Linked DNA regions of Homo sapiens. The protein of the gene in region 2 purifies or fractionates together with the protein of the main gene of each other region. This does not show direct contact. Each region holds a gene or a part of one and is shown on either strand. Other genes may lie near its edges.

Evidence for each region.
Region 1: the proteins of PDK3 (region 2) and PDHA2 purify together in Homo sapiens (affinity purification with mass spectrometry; 2 studies listed by BioGRID and IntAct, with this or other methods). This does not show direct contact.
Region 3: the proteins of PDK3 (region 2) and PDHX purify together in Homo sapiens (affinity purification with mass spectrometry; 2 studies listed by BioGRID and IntAct, with this or other methods). This does not show direct contact.

What each region holds. Positions count from the first base shown.
Region 1 is NC_000004.12:95,837,776-95,841,527, reverse strand, and holds PDHA2 (pyruvate dehydrogenase E1 component subunit alpha, testis-specific form, mitochondrial precursor), read right to left. Parts: upstream 1,436-3,752; 5' UTR 1,378-1,435; coding exon 211-1,377; 3' UTR 64-210; downstream 1-63. UniProt on the Homo sapiens protein: The pyruvate dehydrogenase complex catalyzes the overall conversion of pyruvate to acetyl-CoA and CO(2), and thereby links the glycolytic pathway to the tricarboxylic cycle.
Region 2 is NC_000023.11:24,462,971-24,466,722, reverse strand, and holds the start of PDK3 (pyruvate dehydrogenase kinase, isozyme 3 isoform 2 precursor), read right to left. Parts: upstream 1,438-3,752; 5' UTR 1,268-1,437; coding exon 1,162-1,267; intron 1-1,161. UniProt on the Homo sapiens protein: Inhibits pyruvate dehydrogenase activity by phosphorylation of the E1 subunit PDHA1, and thereby regulates glucose metabolism and aerobic respiration. Can also phosphorylate PDHA2.
Region 3 is NC_000011.10:34,954,530-34,958,281, reverse strand, and holds part of PDHX (pyruvate dehydrogenase protein X component, mitochondrial isoform 1 precursor), read right to left. Parts: intron 899-3,752; coding exon 699-898; intron 1-698.

The DNA.
Region 1 (3,752 bases), on a different chromosome or scaffold from region 2:
TAATGCAAAAATATACAGTATAATTGAATATAATATCACTTTTATTGAATGCATGTCTTTCAATCTCTTTTAATAATCTCTTTTAATAAATGCTTACAAGGCTTTTGTTTTATGAGTTTTATTCCTCCTTGAGTTGAGAACACAGTTTCTTAAATTTGACCATGAACATTCCATTGAGAGACTGATGATAAATTCACACGTAGCCTCCCTTTAACTGACGGACTTAAACTTGATCCATGGATTTGCACCACGAACTTCAAAAGATGAATCACTGCTGTAGATGTGATGGCCTAATTCTTCCAAATGTGGCTCAGGATCAGTGGTAGCAAACTGGGCAGCATCATCAATTTCTTTCCTCACCTCAGCCCCAATTTCCTTTAATTCTTCCACAGTGGCGAGCTTGCTGTTTACCATTCTATCTTGGAGAATTATTATAGGATCCCTCTTACTTCTTACTTCCTGAATTTCTTCTCGTGTACGATAACTGACTCCAGGATCACTCATACTGTGTCCATGATAACGGTAGGTTTGCAGCTCCATCAGTATGGGCCCCTTTCCAGATCTACAGTAGTTAGCTGCAAATTTTGTTGCCTCACGAACACACAGAACATCCATTCCATCGACCTTTAGCCCAGGGATAAAATTGCCCCTCTTGTAGTAATCAGGGCTGGCTGCTGCTCTCTCAGTAGATGTTCCCATTCCATATAGGTTATTCTCACAGATGAAAACACAAGGTAATTTCCATAAAGCTGCCATATTGAAAGCTTCGGCTATCTGCCCCTGATTCGCAGCGCCATCCCCATATAAAGTCAAACAGATCTCATCGTTTCCTTTATATTTACAGGCCAGAGCAATGCCAGCGCCCAGGGGGCCCTGTGCACCGACGATGCCATTGCCCCCATAGAAGTTCTTGGTATACATATGCATCGATCCTCCTTTTCCTTTAGCACAACCTCCTCTTCTTCCCGTCAGCTCTGCGAGAATGGATCGGACAGAAAGTCCCCGAGTATAGCACACACCATGAGCCCTATAGGATGTAATGACGTGATCCGAGGGGTTTATGCCGGCCTCAAGGCCCACGCAACAAGCTTCCTGACCATCGCACAGGTGACAGAAACCGCGAATGAATTTCTGTTTGTACAGCTGATCTGCCTTCAATTCCATGCGGCGAACAGTCAGCATCATCCTGTAGTATTTAAGCCCCTCCGCCCTAGTGAGCACTGTAGTGACAGGGGGACCCTCTTCCAACAGATAAAGATCACATTTCTTAATTTCAAATGTAGCGTCATTTGAGGAGTTACGGGATGCCACCAGCACTCTGCGAGCTGATTTCTGGGCAACTCGCCTCAACACGCGGGAGATGAAGGCGGCCAGCATATTCTTCACGGAGTGCTGTAGATGGCAGCGGCGTCCCGTAACGACCGCCGGAAGGCCTGGCCTCGGCTCCGCGTCTCCTTCCGGTGCTCCAATGCGCTTGGCACCATCCGGGCAGTGCACACGGGTGATAGAGGCAGGTCCTGCACAGCACTGGGACATGGGCCACGCAGCCTGAGCTGACTGATTTGTACAGTGCCTGCCAGCTGTAAAATGAAGACTAAAAGTGATTTCCTTTTCTGGAGGACTTGGGCAAACTACAGGGCATCCTAATCGCCGTCATTGCTGAACCTCAATAATCTGAGTCCCTTTTCCCTGTTAAACCCTGGAGCACTGTATCTCAAGCTTTCCCGACAAGCGTATCAAATAGAAGAAAGGAACAAACTCAGTCCCTAAGGCACATGAGAGTTCTGAGAGTTAGTCCAAAGGTATTTCTTCCTACCAATATTTCTTTAATGTCTTGTTTTTGATCTTTAAAATAGGTATGAATATTTATCCTGCTCCATAATGTGCCATATGTATTTTAAGGTAACAACAAAGCTGTAAATTATTTGTAGCTTAATTAACTTTAAAAACAAAACAAGCACACGCACGTTAACAAAAACCCCTTTTAAAGAAAAGTCAGTACTCTCAAATAATATGCCACATTTATCCTGATGGCGTCTAGCACCTGTGACACTTGAAGTGGGGAGGGAAAATGTATACAAACCTCGGCCTGAGGATAACACTTTAAACCCAGTAATAAACTTTGCTTGGTGTGGGAAAATTGGAAGCAGGGAGAGAGGGTTGAGGTGCAGATTGTGGTAAAAAGTTTGTAGTTTGTGACATTCCACTTTTCCTTACTCTGTTTAATAATTCTGAATCTCTGTTTTTACCTAGTTTTATCCCTATTTTCTGACTACTTCACTTTTGCTCTTCCTTTTGTTTATTTCCTCTTTTTTTTCTTTTTGGTTTTCTATAAAAATGTCTTCAGCAGGTTTCCATAGACTTTCAGGTGGTATTTATTTATTTATTTATTTATTTTGCTTTCATATCAATCAAACTGGACCAGCCTTAGTCCAGGAAATCTAGAAACATGTTCTTATAGTGCCTTTTTATGTAGTAACCATTAGAAAGTGTTACTTCTTATAAAGTGACCCACCAAACAATACACAGTTTGGACTACAAGAGAGCAACAGAGTTTGCTTATGCCACTGGAAACCGTTCAATCACAAGAGAAGAGAAGCCTTAGACCAAGGGATACAAAGATCACATATCATTTCTCTCTTTTTGTGCTTTTACCAGGAAGGCGATTTTGTGCCCCAATAAGCCAACCCTAACTAGGGATCCTGTTTTATTTAGAATATTAAGCCATTCACCTTAATGCATGCTCTGTTTTATATCCATTGCCTATTTGCAAATGATAAATTCTTACCCAAATGTCCCTATTACATGTTCAAAGCAGCTGCCTTCTCTATATCTAGTTGCAGGTGTTATTTTGGGCACTTCTTTTAATATTCAGGAAGAAAAGAGAAAATAGCTTGTTAAAAAGTTAAGATACCTCTTAAAACTTGATCGTCTCCCCACCTTCTGAACCCAGCCATCATAATAGGCCTCATCTTTTCACTCAATTGAAAATTCAACTGTTGGAATTCATGGTCTTGCTGTGTTGTTTGCTCCCTCTTTGATAGTTAGCCTGTCTCTGCTGTTCTCTTTCATTCCTCCAGGTATTGGAGATCTCCAGGGAGCATTATCTCCATAAGAATGAGAAAAATGACACTGCAGGATAGAACAGTAGTGTTAATGGGTCAGTGAGTGACAGCTGAGCCTTCTCTCAGAGGTATCAGCCAGGCCAGTGCTGCCAGGAACACAAGAGCTGTACAGTAAAGTGTGCCAATTTAATCTTGTCACACGTAGCCTGGACTGCAAAGATAGAGCTCCCCTTAAAAGCCCAGTGTGTCAAGCCTAAACCCGACTCATGCCAGAAGAGAACATACAAAGATGCTAATTGGAAAATATCTGTACTACGGGTTCCCACAGAAGATGTCCTTTAAAAAAAAAAATTTCTCAACAGGATCTAGTTAAGATAATAAATAATAAAATGTGAAACTCCCATAGACCTCTTGGTCATCAGTTACCCTATATATCCTAAATTCAACTTAAAAATAGACATCTGAAATCAAACAATGTTGAAGCATTTCAATTAAACTGATTAATCTTGATAATGACTTTTTGACTTTTATTGCTATCCTTCCAAATCCATCTACATTTTTCAAAGAAAGAATGAAATTTCCAGACATCAGGGTAAAATGTTTATCCTGAGCTGTTGAGCTTCTCCTCTTACATGCCCCCCAGCTAGATAGGATTCAAGCTATTCACGGACAATAGAGCCAATGATG
Region 2 (3,752 bases):
TCATTCTCTGGCAAATTGGCTTCTAAAATTTTAATTTGGTCTCAACTTTAACCTATTCCTCTCTTCCTATCCTAGCTTTTAAAAAAAAAAAAGTATGGACATCACTTTTTGCATATCAGGTCTTCCTCAAATGTTCTACCTACTCTGCACTTTAGTTTTTATGCCCAACTGACACTATCACTGACACCCTTGACATTTACATAAAATTCATTAAATGAACAGACACCCTACGATTTCCCCTGGAGAGCTTAGAACATCTTTGCTGCTGGATTTGATTTTCCTCCAGGGATGCTGAGTTCCATTCTGATACCTCAATGCATGCGTTTTACTTTTAGGTGTTTCACAACCAGCTCCTTCGTTTTCTGGGGAAACATGATTCAGTTAACAGAAGGTGGTGGAATCTATTCCCATCTCAGCTAGGCCTGAGGCAGGCTGGGAACCCGAATCTTCTTTGGTCCCACCTCAATCCGTGAAAGCCGCCCACCAGCCCACCGGACAGGGAGAATGTGGGTGGGACACCAATGGAGAAGAGAAACGAAAGGTGCTGGCACTAAAGCCAGAGTTGTATTAGACCCTGCTCTGATGCTAGGATCCCAGACGTCCGCTCTTCCCAAGCATCTAAGGCGTCTGCAGGCCAGGCCTCTAACTGATTTAACATAACCTGATGAAGACAACAGTTCGAGTCCTGCCACTCCAGCCACACAGCAACACCTTAGAGCAGAAAAGGAACAAAATGCCATTGCATAATTTATTCAACCTCAAGGTATTTCTAAACAGTTCTTACCCAACCAAAAAAAAAAAATTCTAAAAATAAAAACATTAAAAAGCCACCCACATCTCGTTCTGAAGTTTTAAGGGCTGTGAGGTTTGTGTCAAGCAGATTTGAAGCTAACGACCGCAGGTTTGGGGAGTCTCGCCTGCGATGAGGGTCCTGCAATGAGACGCCGTTTCTGTGTCTCCGGGTAAGTCCCAGGCTGGGTGCGAGGGGGCCAGGCCCTGCCCCTCCGCGCCCCGAAATCCGAGCCCCAGGAGAGCCCCCCGGATATTCCCTAGCCCCGCCTGCGGTTCCCACAGACTTTACCCCGAAGCTGCGGAGATCCGGGGTGGCAGCCCGAATGGCGGCGGCCCCGGGCCCATGGGGACCCTTGGCCCCGTACTCACCGAAGTCCAGGAATTGTTTGATGGAGAGCGGCGACGGCGAAAAGCGCGAGTAGCGCTCGATCTGCTTGGGCACCGGCTGCTTCAGCAGCCACCGGAACAGCCGCATCCTCGCCCGGGCGGCGCACAGACCCGCCTAGACGCCCGGGTGGCCGCAAGGGCTGGCGCAGCCAAGCCGCACGGATAGGGCACGTTTGCGAAGCGCGCACCCCGGCCTCGATCTCGGCCTCGGCGCCGCCGGTGCAGCCGCCGCAGCAGCAGCAGCAGCTCCAGGACAGCGGCGGGCCGCCCGCGGCTTCCCTAGGCTCCGCCTCGCTGGGCGGAGTCGGTTGCTGCACGTACGCGGCGCGCGAGGGGAGGCGAGGAGCGCGAGGGGCACGCGGCCGCGCGCGCCCTCCACTGATTGGCCGCCGCTGCCTCTGTGACGTTTGTGTTTTGTCCGGGCGCGGCGCCAGAGACCCCCCTCCCTGGCTCATGGGACTCAGCCCAGCCCAGCAAGTGCAGCCGCTTTCAGCTCCGCCTCTGGCTGGGTTCTCCGCTGCCGAAAGGTAGCCGAGGTGCCCGCGGACCGGGAAGAGGCCAGGAGCCCGGAATCCGATCCTCCGCGCTGCTCAAGACCCTTCTCAACCGCAGGCGCCTTTTCCGGGAGGAGGACTTGCCGTTCGCTGCATCCTGACACTTAGATTTTACAGCCTAACTAGACTGACTCTGTTTCGTGGCCCAGCCCCACCCCCACCTCCCTGCCTGACTCCCAAGAGAACACCTTTGGAACACCTTTGGACTGGATTGTTAGTTCGCTGATTCTCTTTTTCGTGGTTCCTTTCCCCTCCTTCCCGCACAAGATTAAGTGACTGATTGCATTTCATGTCCCCCCACCACCACCGTTGGACGGGATCCATTGTGAGGTCAAGGGTCAATAACACCCCCTACCTCCCCAATGCCAGTGGACAGGATAATTGCAAGGTCACTGACTCTGTTTCATACCCCCCCACCCCACTACTACCATTGGAAAGGATCAAATGTAAGGTCACTGGCACTTTCTTTCATACCCCTTCTCTACACCACCACCATAGGACAGCCCCCTTCACGCTTCACCACCACTTTTGGACAGGAGTCTATGCTTACACAGTGTTGGGTATTCTTTATCTCAAGTGAACTTGAGAGCCTGGCATGGTGACATGCACCTATAGTCCCAACGACCCTGCAGGCGGAGGTGGGAGGATCACGTGAGCCCAAAAGTTCAAGATCTGCCTAGGCAACATACCCAGACCCCCCTCTCAAAAAAAAAAAAAAGTGAACTTGAACTCAGGGCTCAGTATATGAAATTGTTATTTCCTATTATGAGTGAATAAAGTACAGCTTACTTTAGCCATTTCCACCAAACCTTGGCTTTTTTTTTTTTTTTGGCAATATGTAAACATAAACATATGTAACTAAAAGGACAGGAAGAATGTTCTTTAAGGAAAGGTACAAATGTGACTGGAAGCCACTCCTTGGGTCTCTGATTGGACTAGTTTTCTCACTGAATGAGATTATTGGTGGGTAGCTATTTAGCTTTTGTGCCTTCAGTGGACGTTTATGCAGCCAATTCTTTGCTTAATAAAATAGTTGCATCTCTACTCTGAATGTAAAGAAAAGTAACATACACAGTAAAAGACCTCGGCCAGGTGCGGTGGCTCACGCCTGTAATCCCAGCACTTTGGGAGGCCGAGGCGGGCGGATCACGAGGTCAGGAAACCGAGACCATCCTGGCTAACGTGGTGAAACCCCAGCTCTACTAAAAGTACGAAAAATTAGCCGGGCGTGGTGGCGGGCCCCTGTAGCCCCAGCTACTCAGGAGGCTGGGGCAGGAGAATGGCATGAACCTGGGAGGCGGAGCTTGCAGTGAGCCGAGATCGTGCCACTGCACTCCAGCCTGGGCGACAGAGCAAGACTCCATCTCAAAAAAAAAGACATCCAGTGGTCTTCTAGACTTTTGGATTTTCAAGAACATCTTGGTCATCTTCATCTTGGTAGAAGTATGTAGACTACCATGTCTTTTCCATTCAAATTAAATCAAAGCATTAAAAAAGACATACTAACAACTTATTTAACCAGGAGCTTTACCAGAAGAGCTAAGTAATCCAGTTGGTGTGCATGGGCAGACAAAGAGAAGACCAGTGGCCTGTGGTTCCTAAAGTGACTTTCAGGTGCTACCTGGAAGTGGAGCGATAATTGGTGGCAGTTGTCAGTGAGCAGGAAGAAGCTGGATGTTTGTGGAGAGGGAGATTTTCTCAGCCTAAGCAACAAAGCGCTGATCTTTCTGAGCTTGCAAATCGCTTGTTTCACTTCTTCCTTTTCCACTGCACAAAATGCTACTTAAAATCCATTCTGTTGATTTGATTATTTAAACTTTCATGTGCCTAATTTTATTTCTGCTTTTCCAAAAGGTGACAAAGTCCTAGAAGTTGGGAACAATATGAAAGAGCCCTATATAATGTAAAATGTGCTTAGACAAGGCTAAGGTCACCTAGCCTGTCTGCGTCACGCTTATTTTTATGTCAGATTAAGATACCTGATTTATCTCCCTGGCATTTGTGACAGTCAAATGAAAT
Region 3 (3,752 bases), on a different chromosome or scaffold from region 2:
GGATTCTTTTCTGACAATGATAAACTAAAGGAAAAAATGTTTAAGAATGAAGAGGTCTACTTTATGAAGATCTTTTTCTCGTAAAGAAAAAGTAATGTTGTATAATTATATAGAATACTAAATAAATGAAATGTTAGAATTTACAGAGTTCTTCTATTAAAGCAATGTAAAACTAAAGTGAAATGATGTGTATTAAGTTATCTGTTTTGTTACAGAACAGACAAAATTGAGCTCTAGTCTGTGCCGGAAAGTCATAATGCAGACTAGTTTGAAAACGAATGCATGTTAAAACATGAATTCTATTTTATATCAGATAGACATTTGAGCTTGGAATTCCTGTAACAGTAATTAGAACTCCATAAATGGGAACAGAGTATCAAGTTTGGTATATTGAATACCATTTTAGACTTCTAAAACCTAATTCAACCTCAACATGGACACATACTGTTTGGTTTTCCATTGTGCAAGCAGGGCTTTTAGAGTACCTGGAACATAGCAGATATTCAGTAACTATTTATTTACTGAATGAACAATGATGGTTAAAAAAAAAAACACACACTCTAAGGTCTGAGTGTGCTGAGAACAGCAACTTCCTACGTGATGTACAACGATGTGCGAATATGATAATGATTACAATTCCATAAGAACTGCCATAACTTTTTTTTTTTACATCATCCTTTGAATAAATATATACTCACCGTAGTGTCCCGGGTATGTGTTCCTTCTTGACAGGGATGGAAATCTGTGGTTCTGGTGAGGGGCGAGGCTCTGAAGGTTTTGAAACTGGTGGTGGAGGACCTACGTCTTTGGGAATTTCAACATGTTTCCAATCTTCTCCTTCTTCTACTATCAAACCAATTAGTGAACCTAGCCGTATATTTTTACTTCCTTCTTCAACCTATATTTAAAAAAGAAGTAACTGTAGAGAAGTAAAACCCCATGACTGCATTAAGTAGTTTGTTCTTTTGTTGGGTAATTCTCCCCTTAAGATATCTTAATTTGAGCTAAAAGCTGCTTCCAAGACAGTTTGCCTCTGCCTTCCACCTGTCACCTTCTCCACTTTCTCCCACTTATGCCTTCCTTCACCATTCTCCTCTTCCCACTTGCTAATGCTACCTTCTGAAATAAAGGATAAATCTAGAATGTATCCTCTTTCTGAGAGCCTTCAAATAAACATGTAAGATCCATCATTATCATCTTCTTTTTGATGTCAATACAAATCCAAACAGGAGCCTGTGGCTACATATCTTAACCATTTGTCTTTCCCAGAGAGTTTCTATGCAATGGCTTTAGAATTCTAAAAGCTCAGAAGGGATTAACTCCCTCAACTTAGTCCAATCTACTAAAATTTACCTAATGCAAGAATCTTTTCAGTAAACTTAGTCTGAAAAGATGAACATTCTAATGTATAGATAGAACTGGTTAACTATTCCAGTTAATGTTAAATATAGTCTACTTCTTTATATTTAATTATTTCCCTGTATATCTATTTACAAAACCTGAAAAATAAAATAAAACCTCATGAGTTTTTTTATAAGTATATCAGAAACACAGTGGTGTCTCAGTTAATAAAGCATTTCTTCCACAGATAATGCCAATTAAACACTTAAATAAAATCAAAGATAATGTTTTTAAAAGTTAAGTATATTTTAAGCATTTCAGCAGCATTAATTTATAAAGAAAGGGCTAATTCTAATTTACTTACTAAAAAGAAGTCCCTAGAAAACCTTCAAATAACAATATTTTATAAGTTCACTCCTGGAAGAAAATGTCATTCCCTTAAAATCTTCTATTATTCCCTTTCAATTACTCTAAATAAGGTTCATTAGCTGTATTTAATGAACAATAGAATGATAGGCTGCAGGACGTCCACTAATACAGTAATGGTAAGGAAAAGCATAACTTCTAGAATGAGTTTGACATATCAGAGTAACACTAATTTCAATGCTTACTGGTATGTTCACTATCGTTAATAAGGCATAAGTTATAAGGGGTTAGGAAGCTAAGTTTACTAATTACTGATGAAGAAGAAAAGCAGCAATGCTTTCATGAAGCAAAATACATATATATATATATGAAATTAGTATAGAAAGCTGAATAGGAATGTTTAATGAATTACAAGCTATGGAAGAATACTAAGAAAGCCAAGAAAAATCTAGTTGCTTAGTTGTTTGCCACATACTAAAAAATTTTGCTTCTGCAGAGTTCCTTTTTCTTTACTATGTCAAAAAGATGAGTTAAGATTATTATTAGACCAATATTTTTCTTCTAAAAGTGTTTAATTACCTGCTTGTGAATTGCTAACTCAAAAATCAAAGTAAAATGACTAATTTTCTTTAAAAATGTATACAAAAAAGCACTGTTAAGTGACATGAAGTCCACTTGATGTTAATTCCTTTCAAAACTGAATCAGAAATAGGATCAATATCCAAGTACAAAGAACATCATTCAAATGTAAAGCATTAAAAAAAGTTTTGCTTTAAAAATATCAATAGATTTCTAAAATCTGAGTCAGACAACTGTACTACATCTGAAAGTGGTACCTCACCTTCTGTTTCATTTACTGTAAATCATATAAATGATTCCATATATACTCTACCAACGTAACATTGACACCTTCACAAGTAGGCAATAAACAGCATTTATCATCATTTCAATTTTTACCATTATCTAAATATCAAATAAAATTTATTTTTAACTATTCACATTTTTTTCTATTTAAAAAAGTGACACCATGAAGCATGAAACCCAAATACAATGGACAAGGACAAGTGATATACAACCATACAACTTGAATATATAACAGAAGATAAAATACAGTTGATTATAATTCCATTTAAAGTCATTAAAATCTCTATATGAATTTAAGATAATTTCTTCAACCTTTTCTATTCCTTTGGTGCAGAGATCTTTCAGAGGTGTGCTAATTTCCTGTAAGCATTTGCTTACACTGTAGTAGGCAAATACTCAAAACTGGTGTAGACTTAGTATAAATACGTAAATAATACTCTTTGCAAAACTGTTTAAAAACCAAGCAGGCCTCTGTTACTGTTCCCTTTCCTCTCTGAGCTACCTCCATGGTAGCTCATGGTACCTCCATGGATACACTCTGCCCTACCAAAGCATCTGGAGCTAAGGACACCTCAAATGCCAGAGTTTTCTTATGCACTCAGCTTACTTGACCAAAGCCCTCTCTTACTCTTCTGCCAATGATTTCTTAATATTAAATGCAGGGTTTTTACACATAGCTCTATCAACTTAGAGCTCATCGATACTGAAATATTGAATGTTGAGTCTATCATTTCAAATATTAGCCTTCCCTCCCAGTTGTGTACAGACTTCCTGAGTTTCAACGCTGGCTCCACCACTTACTAGTTATGTGACCTTAGTAAAGTTTCCTTATCTCACCATGCTTGTTTTCTGAGCTGTAAGATGCAAATAACAGTAGCTACTTCACATTGTTGTTATGAGGAATAAATGAGTTATATGTAAGGCCCTTAGAATAGTGTCTGATAGCTAGTAACTTGTTTTCATTTTCATTGTTAAAGGCATTATTATTGCTGTTGTTATTGCTGTGGTGTTTTCCTTCAAATTATGGATTTTTTAAAACAATACATTCAACATGGATCAAGATTAGACTACAGGGGACTGACCCCTTGGTATGGGTTAGAAATTCATGCTTAAAGGCTTAGCATGTGGCTGGCAGCACTAAAGGGCAAACATCAACATATACGATAATGGGTAGTAAGGTC